Linked DNA regions of Homo sapiens. The protein of the gene in region 3 interacts with the protein of the main gene of each other region in a biochemical or structural test. Each region holds a gene or a part of one and is shown on either strand. Other genes may lie near its edges.

Region 1 (4,291 bases), on a different chromosome or scaffold from region 3:
CATTACATGGATGGCTTCCCAGGACCTGCCCTTAAAGACTCCGATTTAGTAGGTTGGAAATGACGCAATTATTTTTATTTTTAATTAGTACCCCAAGTCATTCTTTACCATCAAGGAAGTTTGGGAAACAGATCACTTTTGTTTCAATCACCTGTGGAACTGGAGCAGTTATTTTTTTCCCCAGCGACTTTACCACGAAGTTAACTTTGGAATACGTTAGTGGTTAATACACGGAACGTTCCCGAGATCCCTCAAGAAAGAAGCTACGAATACTTAGAAGATACTATTCCGCGGCGTTTACAGCAACACTGTCCGTTCCAGAAGGATTCAAGTGGCGGCCTGCTTTGAAGGCGAAGACCACAGGGCAACCCAAACTTCAGAAGGGTTCTGGCCACGGGAGCCACACTGGTCACTGTCCCCTAGTGCTGGGATGACGGCTCGAGTGTTAGAGGATCCCACTCTCTCCTCTGGTAGGTGAGGTCAGAGAGCTGAGGGGGCCAGAACAAGTCTTCCTTATCGGATTCTGGGCGGAAAAAGATAAAGTCGGGGAGGACTTTCTCTTTTTAATAAGATTCATCGTTACGAATTGTTCTAGGCAAGCAGACCTCAGGAGAAATAGGCCCAAGTTTTGATTCCTGTTTTCACCAAGTCGCAAGTCCTAATCGTAGCAAGAGGTGCGGGGAAGAGTCGCCTTCCTTCCTGCATAGTGGGATCCAAGTCAGGCTGTCCTTGTTAGCCAGGGTCAAAGGGGCTCTGCCAGGGAAAAACGACGGCAAATGTTTTTCAAGAGGAAGTCTCCAGCCACTTGTGACCTGGGAAATCCGTCTGGGCCAAAAAGATAGTGGAGGCTTGGCTGAGGGCCCCAGGGACACACGTTTCCTCCCGTATGGAGGGGGCGGGACTCTTAATAAAATTACACTGCACACAGAGCTAGCATCAAGATCCGCTCCCGGGATACGCGCACTGCTCCGGGGCCCTCAGGCGGAGACCCAGACCCCGCGCGGGGCGTCAAGCGCAGGCGCACTACCGCCCACAAGCTGGAGCCCGGCTTCGGGGCGGGGCGAGGGTCAGTCACGTGGGCCCGCAGCCCTCTCCTCGATTTCCCTACAAGGACTTGGGCCGACGGGCCCCGCCCTTCGCCGTGCCCTGGAATGTGCGGCCAGGCAAAGCCACAGGACGGACGCAACCATCTGCGGAAAGGATAGGGGGGAGGAAGACTTAACACTGCAACAACAGGTACAAAAAAGAAGGAAACTCAGTAACAGGACCCAGAGGACCATTATATATTGCTCTATATTCTAGGTCGCCCACTTTACACTTCCTTCTCATGCACTTGGTCAATACCACGCCCGCTGACCACACTGGCGACTTCCCTCTCTGTCGCCCCTCCGTGAAGTCAGACCCACTCTGCGGGCCAAGAAAGGTGACCGGGCTTCCTTCCGGCTTGCTAAGCAGAGGCCGGAAGCGGTGGTTTTTAGCGGCTCTCTGGGTAGCAGGGTGGTGTGATAGCGGCAGCGAGGGGCTCGGAGAGGTGCTCGGATTCTCGTAGCTGTGCCGGGTGAGTGGCGCTCGCGTTCGGGCGCGTGAGACCCATCCCGGGGACCCGTCTCCGCGGGGGCAGCTGGAGGGCGGCGGGGCTCCTGGCGCCGGTAGCGCACCTGGGCAGGTGTGCCAGCCAGGTCCCCGGTTCTGGGATCCGAGGCCATGGCTTGGAGTGGCCCAGACCCGAACTTCGCTCCTGTGCCCAAACTTGGAACTCTGGAAATGTGGCTTCGCTCACTGGCGCCTTGAGCTTGGGCGACTGCCGGGCCCGCGAAACCCGACCCCTGCAGAGCTGACTCCGGGACTATTTTAGTTTCTAACGTCAACTTGCCCGATTCAAGAGGGTTTGCGCAAAAACGTAGCCCGTTGTCCCCCTGCTGCAGCTGTTGTTGCAGCTGTGTGGCTGCGTTTAGTAGGAATAACCAACTCAAATTGGGAAGTTCTTCAGCTCAGTATCCGCTCCTGTAATTAGAACTTTTTTTCTTTAAGCGATGAAATTTTGGACAGAGAGATCTGGAGTTTAGTTTGTGACTCGAAGAAAAACTCCAAAATGTAATACCTTGTCCCATTTGGGGGGAAAGTTTGGGCTAATTCAATTCGCCATGGAAGTGTCTTCTTTTTAAAGTAGTTTAGTAGGTATATGAATGTATCTGTCAGTTCTTGAGAGACCTATGGATTTAGCAGAGATTTTAACTTAAGTGCAAAAAGTTTCATATTTAAAGGCGAATAAAGCGAATATTTCTTAAAATTATTGGTATTTGTTTCATGTTCTGGAAGGGCTCTAATAAACGGTAATCAGAAAAGCACTCTATTTTCAAAAGCGAGGCTTTACTGGCAAGTCAGCCCTCACAGCTAATTGTCTTTGTCCAGTGGTGAGAACTTTTGGGTGTGGCAGTCCAAGAGAACGAATCCTACCTTCAACCGGAAGTTTGCATAAGAAATGAAACTTGGTTTACTTGGAACGGAAGCACCAACTTGAAATACACTTTTTAAAAATTGTGGTTAGCACCAGAAAATAAGTTATACTTAGGCTTTTTTTTTTTAAGTGCATTGATTAAATGAGGCGGTATATTTGGTCAGGGTTTAGAAAGCCCACCAAATACTAGGTGCTATCACAGTACGCAGTGTTTTGTAAGATGGTGGTTTTTTCTTGCAGAATGTGTGATATTTCTCAGAATATTATCAATTTGAGTGTTCGTTTTGTAGAAGAAGTTTCTAGGTTATTTTACATTTATTGCCACTTTGTAAATAAATGCTGGACTCTAGGATTCTAACCACAGAACTCTAATGTATATATTGGTATGGATTAATCCCATTTTATAAATGAACATAGTTTCTAGAGATTCTGAAAACTTCTTGTGTCCTTTGGTGTGTGGGGAAAGCCACTTTGAGAATCTCTTCTATTTCTCCCACCTATTAATCTAGTCTAACATTTTCCTTAATCATGTTGTGTATCTCTCGTTACAGCCCACAATGATTCTGAGCTAAAACACAAAATAAAAACCAGATTCATTGCCACCAGCGCTCACCTCGCCTGACTTAAAAAAAAGGTTATGCTCCTTTAGATCTGTAAACTCAGTCTCCTAACTGCCCTTCATCCACTTTCTCATGCATCTGAAATCCTCATATTTTGTAGAAGCCTGTTCTGTAAGTCTCTCTACTTTCCAGTTTCGTACAACAGACACTCCTTGACACCAAGGATCTTTCACTTAATCCCTCAAAAATAAAGACTCGAGCTGGGTGCGGTGGCTCACGCCTGTAATTCCAGCACTTTGGGAGGCCGAGGCAGGTGGATCACGAAGTCAGGAGTTCAAGACCAGCCTGCACAAGGTGGTGAAACCCCGTCTCTACTAAAAATACAAAAATTAGCTGGGCATGGTGGTGGGTGCCTGTAATCCCAGCTACTCCAGAGGCTGAGGCAGAGAATTGCTTGAACCCTGGAGGTGGAGGTTGAGATCGCGCCACTGCACTCCACCCTGGGCGACAGAGCAAGACTCCGTCTCAAAAATAAATAAATAAAAATAAATAAGTAAATAAAGACTCGACTTTATGATTGAGGAGCTTCGTAATTTGGAAACCTCAGGTCCTTACCTGGCGATCTTTGCATCCTAAAGAATAATTACATTGACATGAAATCTTTTCAATTTATTTTACCCTAGCTTGCTTTTTGTAAAAAGCAATTTCAGGGGGGAGGGGGGAGGGATAGCATTAGGAGATATACCTAATGTTAAATGACGAGTTAATGGGTGCAGCACACCAACATGGCACATGTATACATATGTAACCTGCACGTTGTGCACATGTACCCTAAAACTTAAAGTATAATAATAAAGCAATTTCAACTTTTTTAGATTAAGGGGTATACCCTAGTTTTCTAAACTTCGATGAGAGTTGTGCATTTGCTGAAGGCTTATTACATGAAGAGTGACAGTCTAAATTGTTTGAAGGAAAGTAAAATGAACAACAAACTAGAATCAGCAAAGAGGACCCTGACAATATCAGAAATGATCTGCTCCTTGAGATCATAGCACTGTTCCTGATTTGACTCCCTCCACCATTATTTATTCTCCCCACACTTTTAGTTTGGTAGGGAAAAAACCCCACAGTTTCTGTATTTTGGAACAGTGACTGTGCAGCCAAACTCCCTATCGCTGAAAGGTTTCTGGTGGAAAATAACTCATAGATCAGAATCCAGCCTCCTTGAAAAAGTAAAGGCCTAGGTAGTAACTTCCTCAACATTACACTGCCA
Region 2 (4,245 bases), on a different chromosome or scaffold from region 3:
TACTGTGTGTGAATCCATTCAACATATACACTTTTTAACACCAAACCGAGTCCTGTCTAAATATACACAGTGCTCAGGGAAAGACGTCTCTGACCCCGACAAATCTGCGTAAATCACACTTCCATAGTTACAGAAGCCTCACAAAGGGAGGCCCGGCTCAAGATGCTGATTACAGCTTCTTAAAAGCAACATACCTAAGAATAAATACCCATGCCTGGCCTAGGGGCTGTGGTGGCCAGAGGCAGAGAGGGCCCTCTGTGTTCTATGGGCCTTTTGGCGTCTGTTTTAGGCTTTCGATGTTACTTTCCCTAGAGAAATTAGACAGTTTAAAAATAATAATGGTAATTATTATTATTTTACAATACGAGCAAACAAGCAATTTTCAGGCCTTATTCACTTCATCCGGGTGGCTGGCCTCCAAAGTTTGAGTGCCCTCTGGGGCTGGCAGGCAGGACCAGAGCTCCTTCTGTTGTGTGGTGAGGAGTGGGCATCTGTAGGACTTTTCTGGGTCCAGAGGGCTCTTGGGCTTCTCGGCTCCCGCAGCTCCTCCACCACTCCTCAGAGAGGCAGCTGAATTCTGGGAAGAAACAAAGAGTTGAGTTGCTTCTTAAGATGGAAAGAAGTGTACTGTTTGGACTGTTATTTTAAAATACAGGGTGGTGGGGGAAATCGAGGCTCCTTGGCCGGGGAGGGAGTAAAGAGAAGCCTAATTGATGAAGAGGGAGTTGAGGTGAATGCGGTCCATGGGCACCGATGGGGGAGGCAAGAGCGGCCTCCAGCACCCTGGGAATTGGGCTCAGGCTCCCTGGCGCCAGATACCCTCGGAATCCGGGATCCCCGGCTGGCGCCACGGCCCGCTGGGCCAAGGTCGGTGCTTGGTGGGCCCCATGATCTCATCTCTCCTTTCTTCCTTGCCACTATTAGTGCTCACATAGGCAGAAAGAGGCGGCCCGACGTGCAAACCATGTGCAAACCGCGCCCGCTGGGCTGGTCAGCCGTCTTTCCTTGCCTGCCGACCTGGACTATGTGGAGCCTGGGGGACCCTCTTGCCTCCCAACAAAATCCCCTCTCTAATTGCACATCCCATTCAACAACTCTGCCCAGGGCTTTTCGAATTTCTGGATCAACTTCTTTAGGAAAAAGGGAAGAAGAAGTCTCAGAGACAGCGGTAGAGAAAAGAGGAGAGAGAGGGAGAAGAGAGAAGAGAGGAGGGGGAGGTAGCGAGATTAAGAGTTGCAAAGATAAAAAAAATTCTCTTTATCCCCCCACTTCTCCCTCCTTCCCTGCTCTCCCCCTCCCCCCGCCCTCTGGCTAAGTGGTAAAACCGTCCTTACGTTCTCGGTATTGATTGGCAGGGCTGACAGTGATTGGCAGTGGTTGCCGTGGCAACGCCACAACGACACGCCACAGACCAATAGAAAAGCGAAACAAAATGTTTCAATGCTGCACTCACTGTGGATTTAGGGGAGATATTATGAGGCTGTTGTCATTAGGGCGATTGCGGTGGAATCGCTGAATCTTGACTCGGCGGTGGTTGGCTCTCCCTCTCCTCTCTCCCTCTCCCTCTCCCTCTCTGTCTCGGGTTCTCTCTCTGCGCGCGCGCACCGGGCCGCTCTCCTACCTCCCTCTCTATGTGGCTGCGCGGGTGTGTGTGTGTGTGGATGTGTGTGGGGTGTGGGTGTCCCTTACGCCCTTCCTCCTCTCCCTCCTCCTCCTGCTCCCCCCTCCTTTCCTTCTCCTCCTCCCCCCTCTCCTCTCCCTCCTCCTGGTCCTCATCGCCCCTCTCCTCCTCTTCCTCCCCTCTCTCTTCCTCTCCCTGAATTTTCTCCTCTCCTCTCAGGTCAGTCCATGGTATTCCGCTCCCCCCTAGACCTCTATTCCTCCCACTTCTTGTTGCCAAACTTCGCCGATTCTCACCACCGCTCCATACTTCTGGCGAGTAGCGGCGGCGGGAACGGTGCGGGAGGCGGCGGCGGCGCGGGAGGCGGCAGCGGCGGCGGGAACGGTGCGGGAGGCGGCGGTGCTGGCGGAGCAGGCGGCGGCGGCGGCGGCGGCTCCAGGGCCCCCCCGGAAGAGTTGTCCATGTTCCAGCTGCCCACCCTCAACTTCTCGCCGGAGCAGGTGGCCAGCGTCTGTGAGACGCTGGAGGAGACGGGCGACATCGAGCGGCTGGGCCGCTTCCTCTGGTCGCTGCCCGTGGCCCCCGGGGCGTGCGAGGCCATCAACAAACACGAGTCGATCCTGCGCGCGCGCGCCGTGGTCGCCTTCCACACGGGCAACTTCCGCGACCTCTACCACATCCTTGAGAACCACAAGTTCACCAAGGAGTCTCACGGCAAGCTGCAGGCCATGTGGCTCGAGGCGCACTACCAGGAGGCCGAGAAGCTGCGCGGCCGCCCACTCGGCCCGGTGGACAAGTACCGCGTGCGCAAGAAGTTCCCGCTGCCACGCACCATCTGGGACGGCGAGCAGAAGACGCATTGCTTCAAGGAGCGGACTCGGAGCCTGTTGCGGGAGTGGTACCTACAGGACCCCTACCCCAACCCCAGCAAGAAACGCGAACTGGCGCAGGCCACCGGCCTCACTCCCACACAAGTAGGCAACTGGTTTAAGAACCGGCGGCAGCGCGACCGCGCCGCGGCGGCCAAGAACAGGTTAGTGGCGGGGCCCGCGGCCTGGCTACAGCCTCAGAGGCCTGGGAAGGGGAGAGGGGTTGAGATGGGGCTAGCGGAGCGGCCGCTGAGAGCCAGGGAAGCCGTGACTCCTGGCCAGTCGGAGAAAGTTTCCGCTTGTCCGGGACGCGCGGAAGAGGGGGCCGGGCTGGCTGTGGGTGTATTGATTGCTTTGACCAAGAGGGGCTTTCGTCAGGGCAGAGAGTGTGTGCTTGCGACCCGAGTACCCGCAGCCCCTGGGAGACTTAGCCCTGCGCTGCACCCGTGCCTGCCTCCTCAGCCCTGCCGCCAGCTCGGCGATCCTCTGGAGCCTAGAGACAGGGAGGGAAGGAAAGCACTCTTTGCCATCTGGTTCTTATTTCTGTGCGTTGCAAAACCCCGAGAGAAATCCACTAGCGTCAGAGAGAGGAAAGTGAACCTGGGTCCCTATCACAAGGGGAAAAGGCCAGAGGCCACTGCGCAGCGGGCCTGTTTCCCCGCAACGCTGCACGTTGCCTGACCGGGAGCAGGAGAGCCGGGCTGGGAGTGGAGAGGCCTAGCGTGTGCGTGTGCGTGTGTGTGTGCACGCCCGTGTGCATGTACTCGCCCTCCTGTTTCAGCCGAGGAGAATCCCTTTGGTCCTCTAAGCTGGGAAGCGGGCACGAGCAGCCTCGTTGCCGGCAAGTTGGCCACAAAGTCACAAAATTGTATAGGGCTTGACCAACATCACAGGAGCTGGGCCTGGGGGAAGGAGAAAAAGAACCAGAGGGAAAGAAGTGGATAGGCGAAAGGAGTGGGGAGAGAAGGGAGAAAGAAAAGAGGAAGTTGGGTGAAAGCCCTGATGTGGAGCCTGTGTCTTTCTCTATCCAGCCAGGAAGGCCCAGGGCCTGGTGTACTTCAGGGAGCAGGACCCCCAGCTGCTGACAGCTGCCCGTGGGTGGGGGCTGGGTGTGAGTTTCTGGAGGTGTGTTCGAGTTTAGGCGGCCGGGACCTGAGCCCATGGCCCTCTCACCCCTGCCGTGGAGCCCACTTTTCGTCTGATGAGGGGAGCGCCCAGGGTCAAGCCAAGGCCTCCTTGTGGAGAGAATTCCAGACACCAGGTCCAGGCAGAAGGTTCCCGGTGGGGGAAAGGGCAGCTGGAGACTGCTCTGTGCGCCTCTCTTGCCTTCTCCTTTGCCCCTTTTCTGTCTCCCTGCTCTTTCCCCACTTTTCCACCGCCAGCTTTCCTATTTTCTCTACCCTCGGTCCTGCGCTCTGCGCTGGCATCCAGAGAGCAAAGTATGCAGTTCTACCCGGAGACTGGCCGGGCGGTGGGGAACCCGCAGCTCCCGGTGTGTGTTTGAGGGAGCAGGGACGGGGTTACTAGGGGAACTCGACCGGTCGCGGGGCAGCCGGCTCAGTTTGAAGAGCCCCAGGGACTGCGGAGGGAAGAAGCGCCCGGCTCCTCTCCGACTTCTGCTTCTCCAGGGCTTGGCGTACTTTGTCGCTTGCACCCAGGCCTCCCCAAGCGGCCGGGCTCGGGTTCTGCCTCTCCTCCGAGGCCAGCCTCTATCTGAGAAGACTTGGGATGCTCCCGAAAGCGGAATGGGGAGCG
Region 3 (3,563 bases):
CATCCTGCACTGTGCTTTTTAAATTTAACATGTCTTGGGATTTAATTCATGGTAGTACATAAGGAACTTCCTGTATCCTTTTTAAAGGCTGCGTAGTGTTCTGTTCTGTAGATGCATTATAATATTTTTGACCAGTCACTTACTGATGGACTTTTAGGTGGTTTCTAACCCTTTGCTATTATAAGCAATGTGCAGTACCTTTTATGTACCTCATTTCACTCATGTATCTGTGGGACACATTCCTAGAAGGTCCTTGCCACATCAGAGGATGTTGATAAGTGAATTGTCAAATTACGTTCTAACAAGATTTCACCGGTTTAAACTCCCACCTGCAATATGTGGCTCTTTTCCTGCACGGTGCACTTCGTCAACATAGTGTTACCAAATTTTTAAATCCTTTTCATTGTTAGGGGAAAAATTGTTTACTTAACCTAGTTTTAATTTGCATTTCTCTTATTTATGCATCTTTTCCTGTGTTTAAGACATATTTCTATTTTTTGTAAATGGTATTCATTTTCTTTCTCCATTTTTTTCCTATTAAGTTGTCTTAATGATTTTGGGGAGCTTTTTATGTATTAGGGAAATTAGCCTCTGTCTGTGATATGAGTTGCAAATAGTTTTTCGCACTCTGTCATTTGTCTTTTTGTTCTTTCTCCTGTGGTCTTTGCTATGAAAGAATTTTAGATTTTTACATAGTTAAATTTGTTACGATTTTCTTATATGCCCTTTGGATTTTGGGTCATAACTGGGAAAGTCTTTCCCACTCTGAGGTTAAAAAGAATTCTCCCATAGTTTAGAATAGTACTTTCATAGTTTCACTTTATTTATTTATTTATTTTTTGAGACTGGGTCTCACTCTGTCGCCCAGGCTGGAGTGCAGTGCTATGATCATGTTTCACTGCAGCCTCAACCTCCCAGGCTCAAGCGATCCTCCTGAGTAGCTGGGACCACAGCTGTGTACCACTATGCCTGGCTAATTTTTTATTTTTTGTAGAGACAGGGTCTCACTTTGTTGCCCGGGCTGGTCTCGAACTCCTGGACTCAAGCAACCCTCCTGCCTCGACCACCCAAAGTGTTGAGATTACAGATGTAAGCTACTGCACCCAGCTCATAGTTTGACTTAAAAAAAAAATTAAATCTTGGCTTCATCTGAAATTTATATTGAAATAAGGGTAGGAGGCTATGGATCCAACTTTATATTTCCCTTGTGATTACCTAGTTGTACCCAAACCATTGATTAATTATACATCTTTTCTCCACTGATTTAAAATGCCACTTTCTTTCCATATACTAAATTCCCATATGTATTTGGGTCTATTCCTAGACATTTGGTTCTGGTCCACTGATCTCCCTGTTCACATGTTGATGCCTCATTGTTTTAGTTGGTATATTTTAAAATCTGGTAGGATTTTTCACTCATAATTAATTTTCTTTTTATAAGTTTCCTTATATGTTGTCTTTTTTAAAAAAAACAAAATGAATGTTAGAATCAATGTGTCTAGTTCAAAGGAAATCCTATTGAGGTTTTTTTTTTTGTTTTTTTTTTTTTTTTTTTGAGACAGAGTCTTGCTCTGTTGCCCTGTTGCCCAGGCTGGAGTGCAGTGGTGCAACCTCTGCCTCCCGGGTTCAAGCGATTCTCCTGCCTCAGCCTCCCGAGTAGCTGGGATTACAGGCGCTCGCCACTACCCTTGGCTAATGTTTGTATTTTTAGTAGAGACGGGGTTTCACCGTGTTGGCCAGGCTGGTCTTGAACTCCTGACCTCAAGTGATCTGCTTAACTTGGTCTCCCAAAGTGCTGGGGTTACAGGCGTGAGCCACCGTGCCCGGCCCTATTGAGTTTTTTAAAATTGGAATCTCATTAAATTAATAGAGTAATTTAAGGAAAAGCTGACATCTTTTTGATGTTGAGTCTTTTATTATTTAATTGACTTTGTGATCCACAGGAACATTTTCTTCATATAGATCTTGCCCACTTTTTGTTGAGTTTATTCTTAGGAGGTGTTTTGTGTTTTTTGTGTCTATTGTAAAGAGATCTTTTATGTTTTCTAGTTGGTTATCATTTGTCTGTGAGAGCTGTTAATAACAAGATGTTAATTACATAGGTATCCCACAGAACCCCTCTTTTTTTAAAAGTTAAGGCAAAATTCACATAACATAAAATTAATCATTTAAAAATATATAGTCCAGTGGTACTCAGTACATCTGCAGTGTTTGTTGTACAACCACTTCTTCTGTCTAGTCCCAAAATATTTTCATCACCCCAAAAGAAAACCTCATATCCATTAAGCAGTGACTCCCAATTCCCCCTCTCCCCTAGCAGTCACCAATCTGCCCTTCTTCTCTATGAATTTGCCTATTCTGGACATTTTATGTAAATGGAATTATATGTGACTTTTTCTTTGTGGCTTCTTTCCCTCAGTATAATGTTTTTGAGAGTCATTCATGGTGTAGCATGTATCAGTACTTCATTCTTTTTTATGGCTGAATAATATTCCATTGTTTGGAGAGATGATTTTTTGTGCACCCATTCATCTGTTAATGAGCATTTAGGTTGTTCCCACCTTTTGGCTATTGAGAATAGTGCTGCTGTGAGTATATGTGTACAGTATTTTTACAAATACCTATTTTCAGTCTTTTTGGATATACCTCGGAGTGGAATTGCTGGGTCATATGATAAACCTAAATTTAACATTTTGAGGAACTGCCAAACGGTTTTCCACAGCAGCTGCACTGTTTTACTTGCCACCGGTAATGTATGAAGGCTCTGCTTTCTCTTCATCCTCTCTGACAAATGTTTTTTTCTTAAATGGTCATCCTAGTTAGTATCTTAAAGTTTTTTTTCGAGACGGAGTCTTGCTCTGTCGCCCAGGCTGGAGTGCAGCGGCACGATCGTGGCTCACTGGCAAGCTCCGCCTCCCGGGTTCACGCCATTCTTCTGCCTCAGCCTCCCGAGTAGCTGGGACTACAGGGACCCACCGCCACGCCCAGCTAAATTTTTGTGTTTTTAGTGGAGACAGGGTTTCATCGTGTTAGCCAGGATGGTCTCGATCTCCTGACCTCGTGATCCACCCACCTCGGCCTCCCAAAGTGCTGGGATTACAGGCATGAGCCACCACGCCCGGCCAGTATCTTAAAGTTTTGAATTGCATTTTCTTAATAGCTAATGACATTGAACATCTTTTCATGTGGTTTTCGGCCATTTGTATATCTTTGGAAAAATGTCTATTCAAGTCTTTTGCCTATTTTTTAATTGGGTTCTGCCTTTTTGAGTTGTAAGAGTTTTTTAATATATTCTAGATGCTAGATTCTTACCCAGGTATATGATTTGCTGTAATTTTTTTGGTTTGCAGTAGTTTTTTGTTGATTCTCTTGTTTCAGTTACAGAATTATATCATCTACAAAGACAGATTACTTTTTTCTTTTTAATTTTATACTTAAAATTTATTTTGGCTAAATACTTTGGCTGTTACCTCCAAAATATTGTTAAGTAATAATGGGGGGAGTGATTATTGTGTTTCTTCCTTTAGTGGGAATGAAGACATCATTCTGTGGATTTACAGTGG
Region 4 (3,563 bases), on a different chromosome or scaffold from region 3:
ATGTTTAAGACTGTTTTTTTTTTCTTTTAAAGGAAGAAAAATTATTGATACAAGTTGATAAACAGTCTTTTCAGTACATAGGGTGGTAATAAAGTGATTTTCGTTGGTGAAAAGTTGGGGCTTAGTGCATGGAACAGTGCCTTAGGCATAGCAATCTAGCAAATGTTGAATGATCAAATTAATTACATCTTAAAGAACTTTAGATTTCTGTTAAAAATGTTTTCTAGGACATTCCACAGCAAAGATTTCTTTGTAACAATGGACTGTCTGCAGATAGTGTAAAACACATTATTAAAAGTAGAGTGATTTACATATACTACACTGAGAAGTTATTTTAGGCAAAGTGAGTATGATAAAGTCTTTTATTTCAAAAGCACTTGCCAGGAGGCTTAACCTCTTTTAGAAGCCTTTTTAGGAATTACAGTGTTAATAAAACATTAAGTACATTTTAATTTGCAAGCAGCTAATTTAGCATTGTTGGCTACAACCAGATTGTAACCATTGCTTCAATCAGGATGGGGAAATTGCTGCAAAAGCCAAAAGTGAAACCTTTATGTGTGGCTTAGGCAACTGATTGCCATCTGATCATTTCTTTGCAGCTTCACACTGCACACATTTCCCCTAAGGGCCCTCCTGTTGAGTAGCTTCCCAGAAGGGCTTTTCTCAGAGGGGAAATCTGTGGATTTAGAGGGGTGTGTGTGTAATGTCTTATTACTTATCATGACATAACTGTTGAGTTAAGGAGTTTCACTCTTGTTGCCCAGGCTTCAGCGCGATGGCACGATCTCTGTGCACTACAACCTCTGCCTCCCAGGTTCAAGCGATTCTCCTGCCTCAGCCTCCCAAGTAGCTGATACTATAGGTGTGCACCACCACTCCCTGCTAATTTTGTATTAGAAAGGAGGTTTCACCATGTTTGCCATGCTGGTCTCTAACTCCTAACCTCAGGTGATCTGCCCGCCGAGGCCTCCCGAAGTGCTGGGATTACAGGTGTGAGCCACTGCGCCCAGCCTAATGCTATTTAAAAATGTTCACTCAGAACTTCATATTGTTATATTTTCTCCCAGTTCATAGTCATAGTAGGAGGAACCTCTAAAAGTTCATTCCTTGGGTTTCGTTGTATTAAGCAGTGAGGTAGTTTGCTTTTGAGTATAGGTTTAGATTCTGAGGTTGGGTGATTAAGGAGATAGAGCAATGAGTATGTCACATGTTTCAGGAGGTGAGGGGAGTTTTATATGTGATGTTATGCCAGTGTAAATGTCCTGAATCCACTGAGGCTTTGTGAATTGAGAAAAACGTTGCGTCTTTTTTTCTAAATTCATGCATTCCAGTAAGTTGGGACTGTTTCAGCCTCCCTTAATGGTATTCTTTGTAAATGTTTGGGACAGGTGATGGGAAGGAGTATACTCAATTATTGCAACATTTGGGACCTTTTAAGGTATTTACTAGAAAACTCTGAGGCAGGCCAGGCGTGGTGACTCACACCTGTAATCCCAGCTCTTTGGGAGGCCGAGGTGGGCGGATCATGAGGTCAGGAGTTCGAGACCAGCCTGGCCAACATAGTGAAACCCCCGTCTCTACTAAAAATCCAAAAAATTAGCTGGGCGTGGTGGTGGGTGCCTGTAATCCCAGCTACTCGGGAGGCTGAGGCAGGAGAATTGCTTGAACCCGGGAGGCAGAGGTTGCGGTGAGCCAAGATTGTGTCATTGCATTCCAGTGCGAGACTCCGTCTCAAAAAAAAAAAAAAAAAAAGAAAACCCTGAGACAAAAACTCTTGTCTCAGGGTACTGGGGCCTTTTCTGATCTTGTTAAAACTCTAAATTAGGAGACTGTTGCTTTAAAATTTTATTATAAGAGGACACTTGAAAGTATTCTCATTTTATTGGAACATTTATTACGTTTAAGATATTTCTATATTCTTTGCTACAGCAGTAAATGTGAGAGCCACATTTCTTTGCAGCTTCACACTGCACACACACTGCACACACTGTGCACATTAGAGAGCCACAGAGACGTTCCTCCTGAGCCAGACTCCAACCACTTCCAGAGTTTTCTTGGGAACGGCACATAGATCTGTAGGCATCTGAGTCTTAGCTCCTCCTGTGACTCTCTCCCTCTGGCCCCATGCATCTCCTCCTGTCCCACCTTAGTTAATGGTTCACTTGTCTACTCAGTTGCTCAAGGAAAAAACGCCAGCGGAGCCCTTCTCGGCTCTTCCTCCCTTGTCTAGTCACCTGGCGGATTCTGCTGAACTATGCCTTCAGTCTCTCTTCTCTGCCTGTCTTCTCTCCATCCCCACTCCCACTCCCAATGCCACTGCCACTCCCACTGCCTCAGTTCAGGCCATCCCTGTTTGTGGTAGACACCTGCATCGAGCTCCTTAATGGTTCATCTAAACTCCTTACTGGTCAGCGCACTCTCTGTCCCACACTACTCCTAACCAGCAGTGCATCAGAGTAGTGTATGGTGTGGTGTGCAGTAGAGAAGTGCACATGAGCAGGCCCTGCTCTCAGAGATTGGAGCAGAATTTAGTAGGGTGAGGATGAGGCTGGGACTCTGGATTACAAGTGCACATTCCTTAGCTTTTTCCTTCAAGGTCTTGTCTCACCAGCCTTGTCTCTCCCCACTTGCCCGTTGAGTCCCCTAAAAACAGCATGCTTTGCACACACACTCTGGATCTCGTGATTGGCATCCCTGTCTCTTCTCTGTACCAGGGTAACTTTTTGACCTTTGAGACTCAGCTCAAGGGGCAATTCCTCTGCCCTTGAGGAGCTCAACAAAGGAGAAAAATGGCACGTACCTGGAACAAAGAAATCCTGGGCTGGCCACTGTGTGCTAGATGTCTGCCACCTGAATAATGGCTTGCAGGAGAGGGAAAGACCCCCTCTGACACTGAGGAGGAGGTCGAACTTGGCCTGGCCCTTTAAGCACGAGTAGGGTTTCAGCAGTTGAAGAAGACGGACTGGGTGGCCAGTGAGGTTGAGTCTCTCTCATCCCTCAGGAGGGCTGTGGGCAGTGCCTATGGGAAATGCTTTGAGGAGCCCCAGAGACCATCTGCCTACTCCCCAGTGCTGCTTGCGTCTGACCTTGTGCCGTCCCGCTTTGGGTTTTAGTTAGGCCAGCCCCTGAGATGCTTTCCAGAAGTGTTGAGGCATTGGCTTGATTTTACCCCAGATTGGCATGTCCAGTGCACCTGGTTCCTCCAGAGCTAGGAGACCTCCCTCTGCCAGGCCAGCCTTGGAGGGTGAGCTACCTCTCTATAGAGGGGTCACTGAGGGCAGTGCTGATGGATTTAAGGACAGGTGGCAGAGATGCCATAGCCTTTAGGTTGAGGGGCCAGATCTACATATCTCCTGGATGCTACAGCTATCCAGGAGAAGTGGCATGCCACTCACTCAGAAAGGGCTTTGCATGTATCTCCTGTGGCCAGCTTCATCATGCCTGTTCTTGGGGGACATAAATAAGCCTAACCTCCCCAAGCCCCCCACCCCTATAAGAAAGGGAGGAAGGGGCTTTTGCTCAGAGCAAAGCTGTTTAGAGGAAGACTACAGCATAGCAGTTAA

What was found.
Region 1: of the proteins of OTUD3 (region 3) and MYL12A, one has a biochemical effect on the other in vitro, tested with the Homo sapiens proteins (one study listed by BioGRID).
Region 2: of the proteins of OTUD3 (region 3) and SIX3, one has a biochemical effect on the other in vitro, tested with the Homo sapiens proteins (one study listed by BioGRID).
Region 4: of the proteins of OTUD3 (region 3) and UBE2L3, one has a biochemical effect on the other in vitro, tested with the Homo sapiens proteins (one study listed by BioGRID).

Annotation. Positions count from the first base shown.
Region 1 is NC_000018.10:3,246,352-3,250,642, forward strand, and holds the start of MYL12A (myosin regulatory light chain 12A), read left to right. Parts: upstream 1-1,449; 5' UTR 1,450-1,558; intron 1,559-3,009; exon of another isoform or gene 3,010-3,092; intron 3,093-3,210; exon of another isoform or gene 3,211-4,291. UniProt on the Homo sapiens protein: Myosin regulatory subunit that plays an important role in regulation of both smooth muscle and nonmuscle cell contractile activity via its phosphorylation. Implicated in cytokinesis, receptor capping, and cell locomotion.
Region 2 is NC_000002.12:44,940,257-44,944,501, forward strand, and holds the start of SIX3 (homeobox protein SIX3), read left to right. Parts: upstream 1-1,445; 5' UTR 1,446-1,848; coding exon 1,849-2,654; intron 2,655-4,245. UniProt on the Homo sapiens protein: Transcriptional regulator which can act as both a transcriptional repressor and activator by binding a ATTA homeodomain core recognition sequence on these target genes.
Region 3 is NC_000001.11:19,899,381-19,902,943, forward strand, and holds part of OTUD3 (OTU domain-containing protein 3), read left to right. Parts: intron 1-3,563.
Region 4 is NC_000022.11:21,570,690-21,574,252, forward strand, and holds part of UBE2L3 (ubiquitin-conjugating enzyme E2 L3), read left to right. Parts: intron 1-3,563. UniProt on the Homo sapiens protein: Ubiquitin-conjugating enzyme E2 that specifically acts with HECT-type and RBR family E3 ubiquitin-protein ligases.